Linked DNA regions of Homo sapiens: region 1 is linked to region 2. A link means that fine-mapping ties the variant in region 2 to the plasma level of a protein whose gene starts in the linked region. Region 2 holds a variant in brackets. A gene starts in the other region. All regions are shown on their reverse strands.

Region 1 (8,404 bases), not on the chromosome of region 2:
ACCTGGCGCAGAGTAGGCCCTCAAGAAGTATTTGCTGAAAAAAATTAAGATTTAGTGAATAAACTACTAATCACTGGCTTGTTCATTTCCATCATGAAAATGGCTCACGGCCATTCCTGCCCCAGGGCTCACAGTCCAGGGTAGGAGGGAAGAGGGGAGGGCCACATGTAAACAATTATTTACTGCACAAGAGTCTAGCCCTTTCATGATAAAAGCAACCTTGAGCTTGGACCAGGCTAGCAATTATTAATTTTCCCTTCTTTCACAATTCCTAAATTTCATTCACTCTTCTCCCTTTTATTGATGAGGAAATTGAGCTAAGAGAGCATCTTACATCATAAATAAGAAAACACTTGCTGTTCTTGTCTTCTTAGTCAAGGCCTGGCAAACTCCTATCCAACCTTTGAAACCCATCTCAAGTATCATTCACTCCCTTAATGAAGTCCTCCCAGAATACTCAAGGGCTTACTTCAGATTCCACACCCTCAGTTTATACACATCTCTCATTGTGTTTCGTATTACATCTACGTATGTGACACTCTATTGAAACAGACTGTAAATTCCTCGAGGAAGGGACATTATTCATTCAGGCATTTTCATATCTACCATGCACCGGACACAGTGCATCTTCGAAGGGTAAGGGGAGACTGTGCTCAGCCAGCAGGGATAACATGTACTTGGGCATAATGGTTAAGAGCAGAGGTTCTACACTCAGACTCCTTGAGAGCGAATTCAAGCCCCAATATTTACTAGTTGTGTTAACTCTGAACAAACTAACCTCAGTTTCCTGTGTAAAACAAAGACAGTAATAGTAACAACCTGATAGCATTGTGTGGACAATAAATGGTTCACCACCATAAAATGCCTACAACTGTGCCTGGCACATAGCAAGAGCTCTACATGTGTTAGGCATTCTCCTAAATGTCTGTTTCCCCACGAGGCTAACGAGGGCTCCAGTGAATTACTATGGCGCTCACCATCATCACTAACGAGGATTAAGTCTCCGGGTTAGAGAGGCACATGTAAACAAATACTCACATACAAGATTTTGGGTGTCCTAACAGCCTTTCCAACCCTAAAATAGCATTCACTTCCATGCTAGAGTGAAAGGAAATTTTAGTCTTTTATTTCGTTTTCCTGTAATCGCAGAGCATCTTACGCTGCCAACTCAAACCCAGCAGCAGCCGGGTCTGTTCCTCAGCCCGTCCTCTTGCATCTCTCAGGGATGTCTCTGCACCCAAACACCATGTCCCACACAGAACCCTTCCCAATACACGCCTCCGGCTCCCTTCTTCTCGTCCTCGTGGCTAGAGCGTCCGCCACTCTTCTCTTGCTTATTCAGGTGATCTCCAGGGATGAGGCCATGACCCCCGTTTCACAGACGAAGAAACCGAAGCTCACAAAGAAAAAGTGCGCGGGGTTCAAGCCAAGAGCCTGGACCGGAGACCCGAGTCTACTGACCCAAGGGGAGAGCAGGAAACAGGGAGAAGGCAGGAGCCAGGCGGGGCGACCGGCTCGCGACCCCACACTCTCACCGTCCCCCTCTCCCCGCCCCTGCGCCATGGCCGCCTCTCCGCGACAACCCGCAGAGCCTGGACCACACTCCGACACATAACTCCCACTAAACTCCAGACGTCGGTACCCGCCTTGCCCAGGCCGGGCTCAAGTACCTGAGATCGCCGCCGCTGAAGCTGCCGCCATCTCGCGTCGCCTCTGCTGCGTCGAGCCGCCCGCGGCCATTCCACTCCCTCCTTGGGCCCGCCTCTCCCATTCGAATTCCCCGGTGCCCCGCCCCCTCTCCCAGGTTCCACCAATCAAGACTACGCGCCGCCGGAAGCTGCTGCGTGTGGGTCGCCACTATCCCGCCTTCCAGCGCTCGCCTCCGGGTCCCCAAGAAAAGGTTCCCCTGGTCAGGACGCATGCGCGCGCGTGGGCCGCGCAGCCGTTGATGTCTGGAAGCGCGCTGCGATACAAACCCCTACGCAGGGATGTTGGCGACGGTGGCCGCTGGGGGAGCTGCTCAGCGCCGCCCGGCACTGGGCTCCCTTTCCCTTTACTTTCTGCAGTTTCTTGCCTCCGTGGGTGGTTGGCGCGTCTGCGGAGCCAGGGTCGTTGTGTGGATCGTGGGACTGCAGCCCCAGCCAAAGGGCTATCACGTCTGGTCGGTTCTGTAGATCTGGGCCCCAGGGGCTGGACTCTGGGCAGTCACGTTGCAGTCGCTGCCTGCTGGGCCCAAGGCCACTGTAGGTCCCCTCGCGTCCGTGTCAGCCCAGGAGAGCAGCTTGGATGTTCCTGTCTTTATAACTTGGCACTCAGCACGTCGGCGAAGCGTGGAAAACGCTTAGTCTGTGATTCAGTCCCACTCACCCACGGTTCCGGTTCCCAGTCCTTAAGAGTACAGCAGTCCGTTGAGTAGCTCTCTGTCCTTTCTGAAGGGTTGGCTAGGGACGGTCATTCCACTTTTGAGCACCAGGTAGGTAGGGCCCAGGTTTAGACATTATGTTCCACCCTGTTGAACAACAAAACAAAACACGGGCCGGGCGCGGTGGCTCAGTCCTGTAATCCCAGCACTTTGGGAGGCTGAGGCGGGAGGCTCACCTGAGGTGAGGAGCTCGAGACCAGCCTGGCCAACATGGCGAAACCCCGTCTCTACTAAAAACACAAAAATTAGCCGGGGATGGTGGCACGCCTGTAGTCCTAGCTACTCGGGAGGCTGAGGCAGGAGAATCGCTTGAACCCGGGAGGTGTAGGTTGCAATGAGCCGAGATGGTGCCACCGCACTCCAGCCACGGCGCCAGAGTGAGACTCCGTCTCAAAACAAAAAACACAAATCTTAGATCAGTGTTTCTGAAACGTTTTGCCTTGGGATCCCACTACAGTTTTTAAAAATGAGGCCTCCAAAGATGTTTTGTGTATATGAGGGTTTTTGTTTTTTTGTTTTTGAGACGGGGTTTCACTTCCATCTCCCAGGCTAGAGTGCAGTGGCTCAATCTCGGTTCACTCCAACCTCTGCCTCTTGGGTTCAAGTGATTCTCCTGCCTCAGCCTCCCGAGTAGCTGGGATTACAGGTGTGCACCACCACGCTCAGCTAATTTTTGTATTTTTATGGAGACAGGGTTTCACCATGTTGGCCAGGCTGGTCTCAAACTCCTGACCTCAAGTGATCCACCCGCCTTGGCCTCCCAAAGTGCTGGGATTACAGGTGTGAACCACCAGGCCTGGCCGTATATACTGTGTGTGAAGTGAAACTAAATTAAAGTTGACATTAATGAATTTAAAAATTACAGTAAAAAACCCATAGACATAAAAAGGACATCTAAGTAGTGGTTGCCAGGGGATGGTGAGGGGCTGAGGAGCTGGCACTACAGCAATAGATATAACGAGTTTCTTTTGGGGGTGATGGAAATATTAAATATTTTGGAATGAAGTAGTGATGATGGCTGCGTAACGTAATAAACATACTAAAAACCAGAGAGGTGTGCACTTTTTTTTTTTGAGACATAGTCTCTCTCTGTTGCTCAGGCTGGAGTGCAGTGGCGCAATCTCAGCTCACCGTAACCTCCGCCTCCTGGGTTCAAGCAATTCTCCTGCCTCAGCCTCCCGAGTAGCTGGGATTACAGGCATGCACCACCGTGCATGGCTGATTTTGTGTTTTTAGTAGAGACGGGGTTTCTCCATGTTGGTCAGGCTGGTCTTGAACTCATGACCTCAGGTGATCCATCCGCCTCGGCCTCCCAAAGTGCTGGGATTACAGACGTGAGCTACCAAGCCCTGCCTAGACCTCCATCTCTTTTTTTTTTTGAGACGGAGTCTCGCTCTGTGGCCCAGGCCGGAGTGCAGTGGCGCCATCTCGGCTCACTGCAAGCTCCACCTCCCGGGTTCACGCCACTCTTCTGCCTCAGCCTCCCGAGTAGCTGGGACTACAGGCACCTGCCACCACGCCCGGCTAATTTTTTGTATTTTTAGTAGAGACGGGGTTTCACCGTGTTAGCCAGGATGGTCTTGATATCCTGACCTCGTGATCCACCCGCCTCGGCCTCCCAAAGTGCTGGGATTACAGGCGTGAGCCACTGTGCCTGGCCTACCTCCATCTCTTAAAAAATAAAATTAGCCAGGCATGGTGGCACACACCTATATTCCCAGCTACTTGGGAGGCTGAGGTGGGAGGATTGCTTAAGCCCAGGAGTTTGAGGCTGCAGTGAGCCGTGATGGTGCCACTGCACTCTGGCTTCAGTGACAGAGGGAGACCTTGTCTCAAAGACACACAAAAAAACTAGATTCTCATATCTGCTTCTGCATTCATGCTGTTGTGATGTCACATATAATATAGTATTTTGAATACTCCACTATATACTTGAGAAACAATGCAAGAGAAGTCAATTGGTATCTTAGTTTTATTATGAAAATAGTTTTGAACTTGTAGACCCACTGAAAGTGTCTCAGGGACTCCCAGAAGTCTCTGGACCATACTTTGAGAACATCTGACATTGGCAATTGGCAGTTTGGTCTTCCTTGCCTGTCAGAAAAGGCTGTTCAGTTTTCACATTTGTTGTCAACTCCAGATATTTGGTAAGAAACCTGCCAGAAATAGTGAAAAGAGCATAGATCAAGGAGATAGGGCTTCTATGTTTGAATAAACCATTTAGGTACAGGGCCTTGGTGCCAGGCTGCCCAGACCAGAGATTTAGCCTCTTTGTGCCTCCATTTCCTCAGATATTAAAAGGGAATAATGGTTGAAATACCTCCTAGGGTTGTTTTAAGGATCTGCATCTGGCTGGTAGAAATTAGGGTGGTTTGGCCAGGCGTGGTGGCTCATGCCTGTAATCTCAACACTTTGGGAGGCTGAGGCGGGCAGATCACCTGAAGTCAGGAGTTTGACACTAGCCTGGCCAACATGGGGAAACCCTGTCTCTACTAAAGACACAAAAATTACCCCGGCGTGGTGGCACACACCTGTAATCCCAGCTATTCAGGAGGCTGAGGCAGGAGAATCACTTGAACACAGGAGTTGGAGGTTGCAGTGAGCTGAGATTGCACCACTGCACTCCAGCCTGAGGGACAGAGCAAGACTCCATCTGAAAGAAAAAAAATTAGCCAGATGTGGTGGCATGTGCCTATAGTCCCAGCTACTTGGGAGACTGAGGCAGGAGGATCGCTTGAACCCAGGAAGTGGAGGTTGCAGTGAGCTGAGGTCATGCCTGTGCACTCCTGCTGGGATGACAGAGAAAGAAACAATTGATTTTTAAAAAATAACTTCCAGGCCGGGTGCAGTGGCTCACGCCTGTAATCTCAGCACTTTGGGAGGCTGAGGCAGGCAGATCATGAGGTCAGGAGATCGAGGCCATCCTGACTAACACGGTGAAACCCCGTCTCTACTAAAAATACAAAAAACTAGCTGGGCGTGGTGGCGGGTGCCTGTAGTTCCAGCTACTCGGAAGGCTGAGGCAGGAGAATGGCGTTAACTCGGGAGGCAGAGCTTGCAGTGAGCCGAGATGGCACCACTGCACTCCAGCCTGGGTGACAGTTGGAGACTCCTCAAAAAAAGGCTGCTCACGATGGCTCACGCCTGTAATCCCAGCACTTTAGGAGGCCGAGATGGGCGGATCACAAGGTCAGGAGATTGAGACCATCCTGGCTAACACGGTGAAACCCCGTCTCTACTAAAAATACAAAAAATTAGCCAGGTGTGGGGCGGGCGCCTGTAGTCCCAGCTACTCGGGAGGCTGAGGCAGAAGGATGGCGTGAACCCAGGAGGCGGAGCTTGCAGTGAGCCGAGATGGCGCCACTGCACTCCAGCCTGGGCGACAGAGTGAGACTCTGTCTCAAAAAAAAAAAAAAAAAAAAAAATTCCAAACTATGTCTTTAAAAGAAGCAAAGGAGGTCAGATGTAGTGGCTCATTCCTGTAATCCCAGCACTTTGGGAGGCTAAGGTGGGAGGATAGCTTGGGTCTAGGAGTCCAAGACCAGTCTGGGCAACCTAGTGAGACCCTTCTCTACAAAACATTTTAAAATTAGCCAAGTGTGGTGGCGCATGCCTGTACTCCCAGCTACTTGGGAAGTTGAGGTGGGAGGATCACTTGAGCCCAGGAGGCTAGGTTGTGGTGAGCGGAGATCATGCCGCTATTGTATTCCAGCCTGGGCAAAAGTAAAACATAGAGTTTGTGCCATAAAAGATAATTAGTGGGTCTAGGCCTGGCGCGGTGGCTCATGCCTGTAATCCCAGCACTTTGGGAGGCCGAGGCGGGCAGATCACGAGGTCAGGAGATCGAGACCATCCTGGCTAACACGGTGAAACCCCGTCTCTACTAAAAATACAACAAATTAGCCAGGCGTGGTGGCGGACGCCTGTAGTCCCAGCTACTCGGGAGGCTGAGACAGGAGAATGGCGTGAACCTGGGAGGCGGAGCTTGCAGTGATGCACTCCAGCCTGGGTGACAGAACGAGACTCCGTCTCAAAAAATAATAATAATAAAATAAAATAATAATAATAATAATTAGTGGGTGAGGCCGATGATTCTGTCCTTCAAATATGTGAAGATTAAATTAAGGTCATCTGGGACACAGCAGCAGTGATGGAGAAGAGAATGGGGGCTGGACGATAGAGGACCAGACCTGGAGGGTCTCGTGGAGAAGGGGTCCTCGAAGAGATAATGGAGCACCATGGGTGGCCAGGAAGCTATGCCAGTCTATCCCACGTGGACACCCTTTGCCTTCACTTTTATGTACTTTGATATAACAGCCGCATTGGCCGGGGCGGGGCACTACCAAAAGGCAGGACTCAGCCTGGGGTCCTGCTTCCCAGCCCCCAGGTAGCTCTCTGTAGAGGGTCCTTCCCTGCAGGCAATGAGCTCCCCGTTTGTAGCGGCTGTGCATGGGTTAATTGATGTCTTCATTGGAATGGTGAGGCTGGGTCTGCAGAAGAGGAAAGAAAAGAGTATGTTAATTAAAACTGTCAACTAAAGAAAAACTCAGGCTTTTAAAGAATTAGTTTTATTCACAAATCTTACCTAGAATGGCAACCCGTGAGCGACTTTGAGAGAGTTTCTGTTAGACTGCTCCAGCCCGTAGTTTGCGTGCGGGTGCTGGTGGGTCTGCCCTGCAGAGAGTTGCGTTAGCAACCATCCCTCCCTCCAGCGCTCGCCTCCGGGTCCCTAAGGAAAACGTTCCCCTGGTCAGGACGCTGGAGCGCGCATGGGCCTCGCAGCCATTGACGACTGGACGCGAGCTGCGGTACAAACCCCGACGCGGAGACGTTGGCGACAGTGGCCGCTGGGGGAGCTGCTGAGTGCCGCCCAGCACTGGGCTCCCTTTCCCTTCACTCTCGGCAGTTTCTTGCCTCCGTGGGTGGTTGGCGCGTCTGCGGAGCCAGAGTCGTTGTGTGGATCGTGGGACTGCAGCCCCAGCCAAAGGGCTGTCACGTCTGGTCGGTTCCGTCACCCACGGTTCCGGTTTCCAGTCGTTAAGGGTCCAGCAGTCTGTTAAGTAGCTCCCTGTCCCTTCTGGAAGCTTGGCCAGGGAAGGTCATTCCACCTTTGAGTTCCAGGTAGGTAAGGCCCTGGTTTAGACATTATGTTCCACTTGATTGAACAACAAAACAAAACAAAACACAAATCTTAGATCAGTGTTTCTCAAACGTTTAGCCTTGGGATCCCATTAGTCTTAAAAAATGAGGCCTCTAGCCTGGGCGTGGTGGCTCACGCCTGTAATCCCAGCACTTTGGGAGGCCGAGGCAGGTGCATCACGAGGTCAGGCGTTCAAGACCAGCCTGGCCAACATAGTGAAAACCCCTCTCTACTAAAAATAAAAAAATTAGCAGGGTGTGGTGGCAGGCGCCTGTATTCCCAGCTACTGGGGAGGCTGGGGCAGGAGAATCGCTTGAATCTGGGAGGTGGATGTTGCAGTGAGCCGAGATCACGCCACTGCACTCCAGCCTGGGCAACAGTGCAAGACTCCATCTCAAAAAAAAAAAAAAAAACAAAAATGAGGCCTCTAAAGATGCTCCGTATATATGGGTTTTGATCCATATTTACTGTATTCAAAATGAAACCAAATTAAAGTAACATCAGTGAACTTTCAAATTACAATAGCAAACCCACAGACATAGAAAGTACACCTGAGTGGTGGTTGCCAGGGGATGACAAGGGGTTGAGTAATTGGCACTACAGTGAACAGATGTAACTGCTTTCTTTTGGGGGTGGTGGAAGTGTTCTGGAATGAGGTAGTGGTAATGGTTGTACAATACAGTGAATATACTAAAAACCATGAAAGTGTACACTTTTAAAATGGCATTTTTTTCTTCTTATTAGAGACAAGGTCTCACTGTGTCACCCAGGTCGGAGTGCACTGGTACAATCATAGCTCATGGCAACCTCAAACTCCAAGGTTCAAGTGATCCTCCTGCCTT
Region 2 (15,524 bases):
ATCTTTCATGAGTTTTCCAAGAAAGGGGCAGGGAACTGAGGGTCCCTCCCTTTTTTAGACCATACATAGTAAGTTCCGGAAGTTGCCATGGTGTTTGCAAACTGTCGTGGGAGTGTCCTTCAACATGCTAACGCATTATAATTAGCATATAGTGAGCAGTGAGGACGACCAGAAGTCACTTTTGTCACTGTCTTGGTTTTGGTGGGATTTGGCCGTCTTCTTTACCGCATCCTGACCTGTATTTTGTGATACCCGTCCTGCCAACCTCCTATGACTAAGAATGCCTAACCTCCTGGGACTGCAGCACAGCAGGCCTCAGCCTCATTTCACCCAGCCCCTATTCAAGATGGAGTCTGGCTTGAATGCCTCTGTCACCCCCAGCCTGGCCACAGAAACCACAGTTACAGTTAAGAATCTAGGGTCTAGTGGGCACAGGCCCCCTGCCAGCTGCTGCCCCTTCTTCCAGCCCTCCCGACAGCAGAGGCCTGAGACCTCTGAAGAGCAGGAAGGGAGGCAGCGGTCCCCAGCAGAGGGACAGGGACAGCCCAGCCCTGGGGACACTCTTGGCCTTGGCCTAGGCTCCAACCTGGCTCAGCCCCCTGCTCTGGAGGGGAGCCAGACACCCTGAGGCAGCACTGGTGGCCTGAAGGAGCCAAGTCTTTCAGGGGATGGGAGAAGCAGGCACCTGTGGCTCCCAGGTGCCCACCCAGTACCAGCTGGTCCTACAGAGCCCTTCCGATGCCTGCCTCAGTTACACCTCCCAGAGGCCCCGCAGGTGCACACACACACACACGTATGCACATGCGATGCACGTGTCATGCAAATACATTTATGTTATGTTAGGTTAATTACACAAGCCTCCATGACCTCCCTGTGCTGTGTTAATTACGCCAGCCTCCTGACATACTGACTGCATTTTTATAAGTACATTTTCTTATCCCAACAAACCCCCCCAAAGCTTGACAGTATTTATAAAGTATAGCAAAGCTACATTAAATATTTAGAAAAAGTTACTTTTTAGCTCATCTCTCAATTAAGAAAATTTAAAAAAACAATATTTTTAAAAATCTCTGGCTTGTCAGGCTAAAAACATTTCTATATTAAATAGCTTTATTTTTGCCTTCCAGAATAATGCCATCATGCATTCCAGGGAGAACCCCATTTCTAGAACTCAAGGGTCAAGATTTGGGAGAAATTCCCAGTTCCTCCCTTTACAGCTGTGTGAGGTGCGTGTTTTCTTCATTTAAATCTCCTGTTGGAGATTGAAATGCCCAGAATGGGGGGTAAGCGGCGCTGAGAGGAGGTCTGACGCCAGGTCTCATCCTGACAGTGGCCCGGGCTGTGTGGCTGAGCTCTTTGCTGCCCTAGAAGACTGCCTGGCAGTGAATGGCTGAAGCGTGAGGCCACAGTGCATGTAAAGTCAGCACCTGTCAGTGATTTGTCATCCTGTCTAAAAGCTAGGGACCCAGGTCTACGAGAAAAGAGATGTCTGGGTGTAATTTCCAGGGGCAGCACCCCGTCATTTAGTTATAAACCCTCAGGTTTGACAGCTTGCTAGTTTCTGTCCTGAGGACGGGTCAGCCCCCTGGGTGGGTGGTGTGGCCCCCTCCTGCGGGCCCAGGAAGGAAGGAAGTGCCACGCCCAGGGCCATCCCTGCTTCCCGCTGTCCTGGCTCATCCCAGGCCTCGGACCCAGAGTGAGGAGGGAAGGTGAAGATGGCTGTGTCCTGATCTTCATGGCGCACCCCCTCCAGGAACTCAGAGGAAACAGTGCACTCTCCCCCGAGAAGTCCCAGACACACAGCCCTCTCCATGACTTGTGTAGGGCTTAGACCAGCTAAGACCCAGGACGGACCCTCGTAGGGGAAGGAGGGGGCCCGCGTGAAAAAGCTCAGGGAGGGATCATGGCCTCCTTGGACCCTTCTGGATCCTCTCTGAGTAGAGGGTATAGGACAAGGGCAGGGCTGTTATGAGAGTGATCGGGGACCCAAACAGCCGTACAAGGGTCAGCACTGGCCGATGCTGGGGTGCGGAGCCTCTAAAAGCCTGGTCAGGCTGAGCTGGCTGGGGACCGGGGACAGGGGACCGGTCCTCAGGAGGACCCGGACGTGGTGAGAGGAGAGGGCCAGGTGCCATCCTCAGCAGACACAAGCTCCTGCACTAATACACTTTTCTCTCTTGCAGGCAGCTTGCCTGAGAGAAGCGGGTGGAAGGGGCTTTGGCTTTCTGATTCAATCTGCACTGGGCTAGGCTGCAGGGCAGCTTTGGGATGGACACTCATGGCCAAGAGGAGTGTTCTTCCCTCCTCAGGAGTGCTCGGGTCCCTCACACCTGCCTCATGTAACCACTCTCTCCGTTTTGATGAGGGAGTCACAGGCACACTGCCACTCTTGCTTCGGCTTGTGAGGAAGTAGCGAGCAGATCCCACGAATACCCAGGACAGCAGGCGGCAGGAAGCCTGGGTGACGGGGGAGAGTGAGCAGAGCTGCGGCTACGAGGCTGGGGGCCTTGGACAGGCAACGGCATCTCTGAGTGCAAGAGAAACTTCCTCTCCAATGTGCCTTCTGACTTCCCTGCCATCCAGCTCACAGAGAAGCCCAGATGGTCGAGCCCCAGGAAGGCGTTTAGCCTGCCCAGGGACCTGAGCAGGGCTGCACTCTGAGCCCATCGCAGCTTCAAAGTCTTGTATTTGTCCTTAAGGAAGGTTCCTGCTGGCATGGTCAGGAACACATTCTTACTCATTGTCAAGGAAAGACAGAGGTTTGAGGTGAGTTAATGTCACAAATCTGAAAGGGTTGATTGCGGAAACAGAGCTGGATTTGAACCTCTTCCGCACAGCAAGACAAACCCAATTTAGAATCACGACATGTGTTTCTTTTACAAACCGTAGGGCCAAGCTCCCAACCCTACCCCCCAACCAACTATGTGTGGAGGCGTCCTGACCCTGAGGCCGGCCTGGGCTAGGCAGGTCGCACCTTCATCTCTGACACCTTGTAGCTATAATTGTATCCTTTCCCCGACTTCCAGTTGATGCCATTTGCAAAGCTGCCATGAGTCCCCCTGAGGTAGCGACCATTCAGGTTTGACACATGGCAGTTTTTGTACCACCAAGCTCCCTGAAACATCACAGCACAATTTCCGGTGTTAAGATCATTGTCCTGGTCTTTGGTGGAGAAGGACTGGTTGTTGTGGAACGTCAGGGAATCTCCTGTGCAGGAGGAAATGTGAGCATCGTTACAGGCAGTAACATCATTACAGACAGTATAAGTCTTTATACCTGAGGCCTGGCCTGGTGTGTCCTCCATGTATGGTTAGGCAGGTTGTGCACTGCACAATCCAAGAAGTGCAATCCATGACTCCAGTGAATACTGCCCTGCTGTTGGCAGTGGTCTTGGCAAATTGTCTTTAGGTCTAGCCCTGCCACCTAATGTGTACTATGTTTATTTCACAGAAGAACAGGAGGCAGGGGTCAGGATCATCATTCTCTACTCTGGATTCCATCATGGCAGACCCCTTCCAGCCATGCCCCGCAGAGATATCAGCTGCTGTCACCGTGCATAGGTCCCTGCTCTGCAGAGACTTCCTTCCTACCAGATGCCCTTGCTGGGATTTCTGCAGTCATACACTGATGTGTCCCATGACCCCCATGCTACACAGAGCACAGATGTTAGTGTCTGCATGTAGAGATGGACGAATTGGCTCAGAGAGGTGAGGCCTCTTCCACAAGGCTACCAGGACACTGAGCACGCTCTCTCCACTTCCCAAACCCCCCTCAGAAGCCCAGGCCACACAGCCCCAAGCAGACACTCACCCGCACTGCCCTCCACGAAGGCCCCCAGGACCAGATTGTACTTCTCCGCCTCGTCGGCCACCTTGAATGATCTGTACTTAGCAAACTGGTAGTTGTCCTCAAAGTCCACCAGGTCTACACGGAGCTCGCTGGTTCCTGTTAGAGAAAGGTTTCAGGGTCTCAGCGGAAGGGCTCTCTACCTTTAGACATGGGAGCTGGGGATCTGGGGCAGGGCCTGGAAGGAGGTCTGGACTCCATGGAGGCAGAGGGCGGAGAGCACCGCAGCATCCCCGGGGCCTGTGTAGCTCTGACCCGGCAGGGTGTGCTGAGCAGCAGGGCAAGACTCTTGACTCCCAAATCCTAGCGGATTAGAGGCAGAGTTGGGGTTGGGCCCAAACTCCACTATGGGGCCACTGTGTCCCTCCTTCCCCTCTCAGGACCTGAGATGCCAGTGGGGCCAAGACCTGAAGAGGCCTTCATCCCAGAGCTCTGACCCTCTCCCGTCCCGATGCTGCCAGAGCCTGCAGCAGGGACGAAGCCCTCGGAGGTCCCAGTGCCACCCTGAGTGTGCTCAGGGCCCAATCCCCTGTGGGCCAAGAGGCTCTTGTGTTCCAGGCAGCCCAGGCCCAAGAGGCAGGGGCACCCCCATTCAGGGCCCCCGACCCCCAAGCCCCAGCAGCGGCCCTACCCTGGGCGGTCAGGGCGTGGATGTTGTCATTCCCCAGCCAGAACTCCCCCAGCCGACTGCCGAAGCCCTGCTTGTACGTGGCCCAGTCCCGGTAGAAGTCCACAGAGCCATCCACCCTCCGCTGGAAAACCTGTGGAGAAGCCAGGGGACAGGAGCCGGGGGGGCCAGGCCGACGTCCCACAGCACGGGGGACCCGCCCTCCAGAGGAGCAGCATTTGTAGTTGGCAGAGCATCACAGGCGGGGTCACCAGCACGCCCACCTGTTCTCCTCACAGACTCCACAGGATGAAGGAGGAAATGGGGGCTCAGAGAGGGGAGGCAACAAGCCCCAAGCCACACAGCAGGAGAGCACCCAACCTCTCCCAGCCTCCCCCAAAGGCCTGGACTTTTACCCACCGGTCATCTCCCCCATCATCTCTGACTGTCCCCGACCAGGAGAATAGAGAATTCCAGAGTGTGTTCTCCCACCAGGTGTGCAGCCTGGCCTCCGGGACTCCCAGGCTGACCGCCTCTGCCCAGCCCCACACTCACGGTCCAGCCCCCTCCGTCCGTGTCCATGTCACAGAGCACAGTCAGGGGCCGGCAGTCGGGCAGGTAGATGGTGTGCCAGCCGCTCAGGAAGTGCCCTCGGTCTAGCAGGTCCTTGCAGGTACGCGGGCCTGGGAAGGGAACCCGGGGAATGGCTGCAGGACAGGAGCCCTGGGCAGGGCACAGGCAGTAGGAGGGAGGCCTGGGAGGAAGAAGCAGGGCCATAGGCGTCTGTATGAACAGAGCGGGACTCTGAGGCCTGGACAGGGACACGGCCCCCAGGGCCACGCAGCTGTGATGGCCGCAGCCAGTTGGCCTGGCCCTCCCACCTCCCAGTGTCACCCCCACCTTCAGCTCCTGGGCACCCGGCCTTCTGGCGTAGATTATAAATAGAAAAAAATTGCCATGGAGTGTATGTAAGTTGTCTGGACAATATTTGTCACTTCCTTGAATAATTAGGGGACAAGGAAACGGGCAAGCAACCATTTTCTTCTGTTCATATTTGTCACTTCATTCTGGCAATGGCGTCGTATGACCCTGGACTTCCAGCCAAGGGCAGCCACAAGCCGTGGGAGGAGTGTGGGGGTGGTCAGTCACCTGTCAGGCACGGCTGGGGCTCCCCAGGTGCTCCTGTTCATGGATGAGAGAGGACACACGTGTCACAGTTTGGAAATCAGAGCCCTTCAGCCCCCATTGGTCCGCGGACACCATTTTCTGGGCCTCCCCAGGAGGTGATGGTATGGGTCCAGCCAAGGAGTCCCTGACCCTGGTTCTGTTGACCAAATTTTTCTTTCCCTCGAGGGATGCCTACACTGGCCCCTCCACCACATGCACCCCTTTCAGAGGTTCCTGGGGAAGCAGAGGCCACCATCCCAGAGACTGCTGAGGCCTCCACATGCCAACTAAAGGAAGCCTGGATCTTCAGGCTTCTCCTGAGGCCCCAAGGCCTGCAAACAGCCCATCTTGGTGGACACAGTAATATGATGTGGGGAGTGTTGTTTGCGGTGTGGGCACCAAACCTGCGTATTTTATGTTTAGACACAACCCATGACTGAGCCTGGGGTTTGGTGAGTGTAGGGTGGTCTTATTCTGAGTAGGTCTGTGGGTAAAGGTGAGTGAGTAAAGGGAGCTTCAATTTCCTACTGCGTATTTCTCCGATTC[C/T]TCAAAATTTATTCCTCAAGAAAATATATCAGAAAATTCTTTGTTTTAAAGCAGAGAATTTCCACTAATTCTGTGTTTGGAACTTGTTGGCATGGTTCTCCAAGCCATCCGGGGCTGATCCTGGTTTTCAAGCAGAGTCAGGAGGAGGGGACAAGACAGGGCCTCATGCTCAGGGGACAGAGGCCAGGACTGAGTGAGGCTTAGAGAGGTGGGCAGACAATCCCCCCCCACCCTCTCAAGACCACTTCCACATTAGAGGGACAGGATTTGGTCTCAGGCCCACCCACAGGGCAGATGCTCCTGCACTGAAAACCTTCCCCTACCTGAGAACCCCCCCATACAGACAGCCCCCCCACTAAGAACCCCTCCCCACACTAAAAGTCCCTCCCCGAATAATCAGAACCTCTCCCCCATCCCAGAATCTCTCCCCCATATTGACAGCTCCTCCCTCCCTGCTGATAACACCTCCCCACAGCCTGCCCACCGGGAACCCCTCCCCCAACACACACCCCAAGAACCTCTCCCTACACCACCAAGAACCCCTCCTCCGACATTGAGAACCCTGCCCCCACACTGATGACCCCACTCCCCCAAACTGAGACCCCCTACACACATTGAGACCAGCTCCCACACTGATAACCCCACTCCCCCAGACTGAGAACCCACACACACATTGAGACCCCTTCCCCCACACTGAGACCCCTGCCCTGGACTAAGCCCCAAGAGCCCTGCCTGGGCAGGCGTTGGCTCTGGCGAGGACAGCGTGGCAGCCCCAGAAGACCCGCCTCACGTTCCTCTGCAGCCAGGTCTGGAAGGGCCTTGAAGCCGCTTCTCACTCTTGTCCCCTCCTTACCGTTGGGCCCAGGTGGTCCTGCCTTCCCAGGAGGTCCAGGGGGGCCACGTTCTCCTGCAATTTCCAAAGACACTGACTTGAGGAAAACTGCCCAGCCCAGGATCAAAGGGCCCACCCTGGAGCTGGCGGCTGTCATTTCCAATCATGACCATGACCCTGCTCGTGCTACGACGTGACTGTGGCCCCGCCCAGGCTTGCCCATCCTGCACCAGAAGGTTCTAGATCCAGGACCCAGGCCTCACGGGGCTCTCCTGTTCACTCAGGGGCCGGGAGCTGGAAATCCAGAGACCATGGGTAGAATCTCGGCTCTTTTCCTTCCAAGTGTGAGAACAGAGCGAAATCCCTGGACTCTCTGAGCCTCAGTTTCCTCATCTGAGACAGGTGGAGAAGAGTGTCATGGCCTCCGTGTTGAGGTGGGAAGGTGGAGGGACACAGAGCTTGAAGTCGTGCCAGCGGCCGAGCAAAGCTGGTATTGGATCAAGGACTAGGAGACAGAGCTACAGAAGCATGTCCAAATGTGAGCTCATGAAATAGCTAAGAAAGACGCTCCCTCCATGTCAGAACCCTGTTGGGCCCTGGGAGTCAGTTCTTTTCCTGGCTCTTGCAGGGGCCTGACCCAGCTCTCGATCTAGGAACCATGGTGGGGGTGTTGCCCAACTCAGCATCTGGTTTCAAAAAGAGCAAGAGCCAGTGCCCCCAGCCATGCCTGCACCTACCTCTCTTTCCATTGGTGCCTGCCTCTCCCTTGGGCCCAGGGGCCCCAGGCAGCCCCGGACAGCCTCGGAGAATGGTGAGCTTGTCAGAGCCCTCCAGGCCCACCATCTTCACCTCTGCAGAAAAACACAGGTGGCCACTCAGTGTCACCTGGGCCTGAAGACTCCACTGAGCCATAGATATACCACTCAACTGAAAGGCATCTGCCATCTTGGTGACATCAGGACTGGGCAGATGGCTATAGCCACAGCCACCTCCCTCAGCTGGAGGGTCACCTGGAAGGGAGGTTTTCCTGCCCTGGTGGGCACTTGGTCTGTCCTCACCTCTTGGGCACTGGTCAGGCAGAAAGGTGATTTGGGGCAGAACCCTGGCCTTGGAGGCTACCCTGCCTGAAGGCAAACCTTACTTCCTCAGTACTGTGTGTCCTGAAACAAGTCCCTTAACCCCTCTGAGCCTCTGTTCCCTTACCTACCGAGGGGTGCAGGTTCATTTCAGCTCCTACCATTTAAGACAGCATCCTAATCTCGTCTGTTCTCATCTATCATATCATTGTAATCAATATCGGGTGAGAAGGACACAGGGAGAGAGGCTACCATTGCAACTCCCACGCCTGATCTTGGAGCAGATCTGAGAGTGGATGGGCTCCTGTGGGTCCACCTTGTTCCTCCACAGAGGGAGGCGTCCTTCAAGGACACTGAACAAGTTGGTGCGAAACTAGAGCTGGAATGCAGCTTGTTGTTTTTAATTAGATAACTCAAATTCAAGTGAGTGTGTTACAAAAATAACACGTGCTATTATTTGATCATTTAGAAACTCTAGAAGTATTTAAGGAAGAAAATAATGCCACCCTAACCCCACCACTCCACAACGAGCCACTAGGAGTTTCCAAGCGAATCCCCGCTGTTCCTGGCCTGTGTCACACTTCACGCCACGGATTGCTCCTTGAATGCGATGCTAGTCACAGCACACCGCAGAGCTCTGTGTCTCACATGCATTCCAGAAATCCTGACACGAATCTCTGCAAGCATCAGGAGCATCACAAATTCCTGACCCTGCATCCCAGCCCCGGGTAGACGGAGTCAGGACCTGACTCCAGAACCTGCATTTTCAACCTGCCCTCGCATGCGCCGGAGCCCATGGTTTGGCACCCGAGTGTCCCCTCGGGAGCCCCGAAGGAGGTCCAGAACTCACGGGGACAATGCCACCCTTATTGTGCCGCATCAGGGACACCATGGGAACTGCCATCTCCAGAGCCCAGCAGGTCCTGGATGGAAAGGTCCTGCAGTGCTCATCCCCGCCTGACACCCTGTCTTTCCGGGTGCTTATCCCCACCTCACACCCTGTCTCTCTGTGATGGCGACCATGGCAGAATATCTGACTGGTGTCTACCCAGCTGGCACCACAAGCCTCACCTCCCCACACAACACCATGACTACGCTTTTTACGCTTAGAGGGGGACATGTGGCCCAGGGAGACTGGAAACCTGCCTCGGTTTCCATTATGGGAGGGCAAGCAGAGGAAGCTCCGTCTCTGAGATGCCACATCCATTCGGGGCCTCTGCGTTTGTTCACATAAGATGAGGCATGCAGAGCTGCTGTCTCGTTAGACGATGCTCCACACGGCCTGGTGCAAGGCCTGGAAGCCAGGAAGCCACCAATCACGAAGCTGCCAGCTTTCAGGGACGAGAAGTTTCCAGGAGGAGGCCCTGGAGTGCCCTTACCTGGACAGGTGTCTGCCGCCTGGAGAGCCCAGGCCATGCCCAGGAAAGAGAGCAGCAGGGTGGCAGCGCCCAGGACCCCCACAGCTCTGTCCAGCTCCATCTCTTCTGGTCTTTGCTTCAAAAGGTGCCTGCCCTCTTATAGGGCTAGAGAAGCCAGCCTCCCTCAGACTCCAATTTCTCATCTTCCGAGTGACAGCCGCTTCCTCTCCGCGGGCTTGGTGACGCCAGCAGGAGGTGCGAGATCATCTCCAGGGCTGCTCCCTACCCCCCGCCCCTTGGGGATCCCATGGCGACTGTCATCCCTGCAGGGGGACGGTCTCCTTCCAGGGAACAGGCTGACTTGCTTGTGGCCTTGGGCAAAGAGCCCAGGCCCATCCTCCCACCTTTGTTCAGCGGTGAGCAGATGTCACCATGAGCTGAGAACGGGGAACAAGGAAGGGTTTGCTAAAGATGTTCTGCTTCAAAGAGGTCTCTCTCCCTTATCCGAATACCTAGAGTCCTCATGGCCAGGGCTGGTCATGGGCCACTGGTGTGGGCCTTACACAGTAACCCTCACCACATCATGAGCAGACTTGGGACTCTCCTCAGGAGGCTTGGAAACTGCCACTATGAGGTCCAGGCAGGCTGCCAGGGTGAAAAGGAGAGGAAAATGCGTGTGTGTCCACTGTTTCCTGGGGCAGTATGTAGAGCACAGGGGCACATGAACAGGAGGGAAAGGAGAGAAGAGTGGGGAGCCTGGGGGACTATGACCCAGGTACACATCTGAAGGGGAGACCTTGAGTGTGAATGCAGGGGCTTAGCCTGTAGGGAGGATGAGAGTAGGTGAATTTCACTCCTAGGGCCCAGGGAACCCCCTGAGCCCTGAGGCCAGACATCCCACCTGTAGGATGGCTGTGGACTTACTTCAGTGGTTGTGTTCGCCTTTTGGAGAAGAGCTGGCCTGAAGGTGCACTCTCGCCTTGGACTGAGCCAGGTTAGAGACAGAGACAGTAGCAGGTGGGGCCCCAGAGGCCGTATACCTAAAGCCCCCAGAGACGGAACCAGCACTGCACCTCCCACTACCACCACCGCACCCTGCCACCTGCTGCCATCGGGATGCCGAGGTGCCTTCTTCCTTGGCAAGATCAGTAGAAGGATTTTAAACTGTGACCCCAGCCCAGCAAAGCCACGCGAGAAACAAAATCCCATCGGATTTTCCTTCAATGCCCATGGAGATGTGTGGTCCTGAGACTATGACTAGTTAAGACCCCCCTCGGGTTCCGTGGTGTTTAGGGCAGACCTCTCAAGACTTAATTAAGGCTATGCCAGATGCAGATGAGGTCCAGGGATGAACCTGGGGAAGACACAGGCTCCATGGAGATGCAGATATGGAACCTAGAAAGATGGCTTGGGGGCATCTTCCTCAAAGTCCTGAAGTCACCTGCAGAGGAGCCAGGTCCCCAGAGCTGCCCAGTGAAACCCCAGCAGCCAAAATTCCGAGTCCTTAGGCAGGTTCCTTTACTGCATGCTATTTGTCCTTCCTAATAGAAGCATCTTTCAAACCTAGATGACTTAAAATTAAGTCTAGAAGGCTTTAAAAGCCCAAAGACATTATATTAATATTTTAGTGTTCAGAAATCTAAAAAAATATGCTATTTAAAGTACTTGCAATAATCAAGAGAATCTGGCCTATTGGAGTGGGTGCAGGATAACTTCAACAGAAAATGGCCAATTGAGTAATTGATTTGGCAGAGTGCATTTATGCGGAAAACTTACCGAATTCATATAAACTATTGAATCACTTTATTGGAACTCTGAGTTTATCACATGCTGAATTTAAATGATTACATTTCTAGCAGTTCATATTCAGAAGGATTTTTTAAAGTTAGACAAGGTACTAAAGGATAAATGTGGTTCTATTAAATGTATAAATGCAGTAACAATGTTTGAAGGTGTTTAGTTGGCTAAGTTAAGGAATGGACCAAGAATTATTCACAGGCTCCTTATAGGTGGTTATTAAAAGATAGAATAATAAGGTTTATAAGTCACACTTTTAAAATGAAGGCAGAATGCAGCTTTTAAAGTACACTTTTTTTTTTGAGACGGAGTTTCGCTCTTGTTGCCCGGGCTGGAGTGTAATGGCACAATCTTGGCTCACCACAACCTCCGCCTCCTGGGTTCAAGCGATTCTCCTGCCTCAGCCTCCCGAGTAGCTGGAATTACAGGCAGGCACTACCATGTCCGGCTACTTTTTGTATTTTTAGTAGAGATGGGGTTTCCCCATGTTGGTCAGGCTGGTCTCGAACTCCCGACCTCAGGTGATCCACCCACCTTGGCCTCCCTAAGTGTTGGGATTACAGGTGTGAGCCACCGCGCCAGGCCCTAAAGTAAGATTTTTAATAAATGGACATAATTAAATTTGAATTCGTTTTAGAAAGCAAAGGAAGACCTGAAAAGTCTTTGGTGAACTCAAAATTGCCCACAGATGATAACACACAAAAACCAAAGCCCTCACAGGCACCAGTGTAAATGTTGGTCAGGGGTGCTTCCAGGGGTCACGTCACTTGTTACGGGCAAGGAGGCTGAGGCTCAGAGAAGGGCAGAAGTTCCCGCAAGGCACATGGCCAGTTCATGGCTGAGCTGGCTTCCAGCCCTAGTTCCTCGGGTCCCAACTAGGGCCTTTTCTACCCCCCTGTATTAATCAGGGACAGAACTAATAGGATAGGCATATATAAAGGGGAGTTTATTAAGTATTAACTTACAGGATCACAATAGGCTGTGTGCAAGCTGAGGAGCAAGGAGACCCAATCTGAGTCTCAAAACTGAAGAACTCGGAGTCTGATGTTCGAGGGCAGGAAGGATCCAGCACAGGAGAAAGATGTAGGCTGGGAGGCTAGGCCCATCTCGCTTTTTCACATTTTTCTGCCTGCTTTTTATTCACTGACAGCTGATGAGATGGTGCCCACCAGACTGAGGGTGGGTCTGCCTTCCCCAGCCCACTGACTCAAATGTTCATCTCCTTTGGCAGCATCCTCTCAGAAACACCCAGGATCAATACTTAGCATCCTTCAATCCAATCAAGTTGACACTCAGTATTAACCATCACATCCCCCTTCCAGAAGTTTCCCTCCCACACAAGCTACCTCTGTGCCTCAGCCCAGGTCTCCACCCTCAGGGTGCCGGCTGTTCTAGGACAGGTGATGCTGTACACAGGAGACAGACCAGGCAGGCATGGATCCCATCTGTGAGGTCTCTAACATGACCACCATCTCACAAAGGCCAGGAGGAGAGAAATGGAGAACACGGCCATGAGACTCTTGTAGCAGACAGCAGTGGCTTCATGTTGCCGGAAGGTAAACTGTGATCATGGAAGAGATTTACTACAAATTCTAACGTGGCCACTAAAATAACAACCTTCTACAGATTCAAGCCATACAAAGTATGTTCTCGGACAACAATGGAATTAATTAGAAATCAAGAAAAGAAAGGTGTCTAGAAAATCCTCCCAAATATTTGGATACTAAATAACATTCTTCTAAATAAGATATAGGAAATAGAAGAGGCCAAAGGAGAAATTAGAAAGAATTTTGAATTGAATGAAAACAAAAAGGCAGTAAAATACAGTTTGCATGGTGTTCCTAAAGCACTCCTTGGGAGGCAAATTACAGTGTGAAATGTTCACTAAAAAGGAAGAAAGGTCTCAGGTCAACAGCCTCTGCTTCCGTCTCAAGAAACTAGAAAAACAAGAGTAAATTAAATCCAAAGTAGAAAAAAGAGAATGAATAATAATGAACAAGTGCAGAAAATCAATACAACCTGAAGCTGATTCTTTGAGAAGGTAAATCAAATTTATAAACCTCTAGTCAGACTGAAGAAAAGAGAAAAAAGAGGGAGAATGCAAAATATCACTATTAGGAAGAGATCAATGACCTCACTACATATTCTACAGATATTATGAGGAATATAAGGAGATATTAAGACACTTTAGCACCAACATATTCAACAGTGGAAATGAAATGGACAATTTCTTTGAACCACCAAAGTCACTCAAGAAATACCTAAGTCAAACAACTGGCGTGGTGGCTTACGCCTGTAATCCCAGCACTTTGGGAGGTCGAGGTGGGTAGATCACCTGAAGTCAGTTCGAGACCAGCCTGGCCAACGTGGCAAAACCCCTTCTCTACTAAAAATACAAAAATTAGCTGGTGTGGTGGTAGGCACCTGTAATCTCAGCTTCTCGGGAGGCTGAGGCAGGAGAATTGCTTGAACCCAGGAGGCAGAGGTTGCAGTGAGCCAAGATCGTGCCATTGCACTCCAGCCTGGGTGACAAGAGGGAAACTCCACCTCAAAACAAAACAAAACAAAACTATACATATAAAATAAATTGAAATTGTAGTTAAGCCTTTATTTTTATTATAAAGAAGTTTATCAGGATAATGTGGTACTGATGTGAAGGTAGACATATAGACCAATGGAACAGACAAGAGAGCCCATGAAGAAATAGAGAGTCTACAGAATAGAGAGCCCAGCAAAAAAATCTCCAGGCCCAGACAGCGTCACTGATGAAATCTACCAAACATTTAAGGAAGAAATAATAGCAATTCTTCCCACATTCCTTCTGAAAATCAGAAAGTTACAACTACTTTATCATTCATTCTATGAGGCCAGCATTTCCCCAATAGCAAAAGTAGATAAAAATCATTGCAAGAAAAAAATAACTATAGACTGATAGCCCTCATGAACATAGATACCACAATTTTAAGCAAAATTTTAGCAAACTGAACCTGTCTATGAAAATAATGTATCATGAGCAAGTGAGGTTTAGCCCAGGAATAGAATGTTTGTTTACCTCTTAAAAATCAATGTAATTCTCTAGCTTACCAAATTAAAAATGATATACTATCATCTCAAAAGAAACAGAAAAAGATTTGAACATTTTCATCCATTCCAGATGAAAAAGGCTCTCCAAAAATGAAGAATAAAAAGTATTCCTTTTCTATCATTGTGTAACAAATTACCACATCTTAGCAGCTTAAAATAGCACCTGTTTATTATCTTATAGTTTTTGTGGGTCAGGAGTCCATGCACAGTTTATTGGGGTTCTCTGCTAAGGTCTCAAAAGCAACAATTGAGGTATCAGACAGGGCTATAGTCTCATCCGTGGTTCAACTGGGGAGTGGTCTGTTTTTAAGCTGGTTCAGTTTAGGGGCAGACTGCAAACCCTTGTCATTGTATTAATAGGAATTGAGGGATACATTTTCTTGCTGGTTTTTGGTTGGAAGATGCCCTTTATTCCTAAAGACTACCCACAATTCCTGTCCCATGGGGTTCCCCAAATGGCCACTTCCTTCTTCAAAACCAACAAGGGAGTGAGAGAATGCAACAAGACCAGCAAGATGGGAGCTACCATTTTATGCAATAGTCACGTGCACATAATCACATACACAGCTTCCTCTTTGCTGTACTCTTGGTTAGAAGCAAATCATAGATTCTCTCTACACTCAAGGGGGGTGGGGACCAGTGGGGACCAGACATGGCTGTGAGCAGTGAGGTGCAAGGATCCTGGGGAACACCCTGGGGCCTGTCTACCACGGAAGGAAGCTTGCTCAAGGGCATCCACAAAAAACCCACAGTTCACATCACGTTGAATGGTACAAGACTGAATGAATGCAATTAGAACAACCAAGAGCAAGAGAAGGTGTCCACTCCCACCATTTCTACTCAGCAAGGTACTAGAGGTCCTAGTCAGTGTCACTGGCAAGAAAAAGAAGTCATGCATATTAGGAAAGGAAGAAGTAAACTGTCTTTTTTTATTTAACACATGACATGATTCTGTAGAAAATCTGATCAAATCTGAAAAATCTGCTAGAACTACAAAGTGAGTTTAGCAAGGTTGTAGTATATAACTTCAATATATAAAATCCGTTGTTTTTTTCAAATCACCAATGAATAATTAGAAATAAATTAAAACACCATTTACCATAGCATTGAAAATATAAAATACTTATGGATAAATCCAATCAAATATGTTTAAGACCTATTCAGAAAACTACAAGATATTGTTGGACAAAATTAAAGATCTAAGTAAATGA

Which allele goes with the higher level. Alleles are on the strand shown, and positions count from the first base shown. The strength of an association depends on the size of the effect and on how common the allele is.
In carriers of allele C in region 2, the plasma level of the protein whose gene starts at base 1,749 in region 1 tends to be lower than with T alone (weak association).

The links. A credible set is the group of variants that fine-mapping cannot tell apart. PIP is the chance, under the fine-mapping model, that this variant and not a neighbour inherited with it causes the effect. Protein levels are from antibody-based Olink assays in UK Biobank. Linkage for the fine-mapping came from a reference panel and not from the study's own genotypes, which makes the PIPs less certain.
Region 1: KIF22 starts here. The variant in region 2 is the best candidate, but not a certain one, in a credible set for the plasma level of the KIF22 protein (UK Biobank, PIP 0.71).

What each region holds. Positions count from the first base shown.
Region 1 is chr16:29,784,096-29,792,499 of GRCh38, reverse strand. KIF22 (kinesin family member 22) reads right to left here and starts at 1,749. Exons shown (of 14, transcript NM_007317.3): 1 at 1,671-1,749. The coding sequence starts at 1,740. It overlaps LOC124903675 (a long non-coding RNA gene), which reads left to right and starts at 7,167. Exons shown (of 2, transcript XR_007065048.1): 1 at 7,167-7,543. LOC105371167 (a long non-coding RNA gene) reads right to left here and starts at 4,987. Exons shown (of 2, transcript XR_950983.1): 1 at 4,954-4,987; 2 at 4,377-4,578. RefSeq lists enhancers at 1,939-2,338, 7,129-7,218 and a silencer at 8,075-8,214.
Region 2 is chr9:134,874,851-134,890,374 of GRCh38, reverse strand. It overlaps FCN2 (ficolin 2), which reads right to left and starts at 9,565. Exons shown (of 8, transcript NM_004108.3): 1 at 9,454-9,565; 2 at 7,736-7,849; 3 at 7,020-7,073; 4 at 5,603-5,635; 5 at 5,009-5,136; 6 at 4,478-4,607; 7 at 3,811-3,945; 8 at 2,852-3,207. The coding sequence starts at 9,553. The coding sequence ends at 2,960. RefSeq lists an enhancer at 70-570. The variant C/T (reference allele first, on the strand shown) is at 6,167.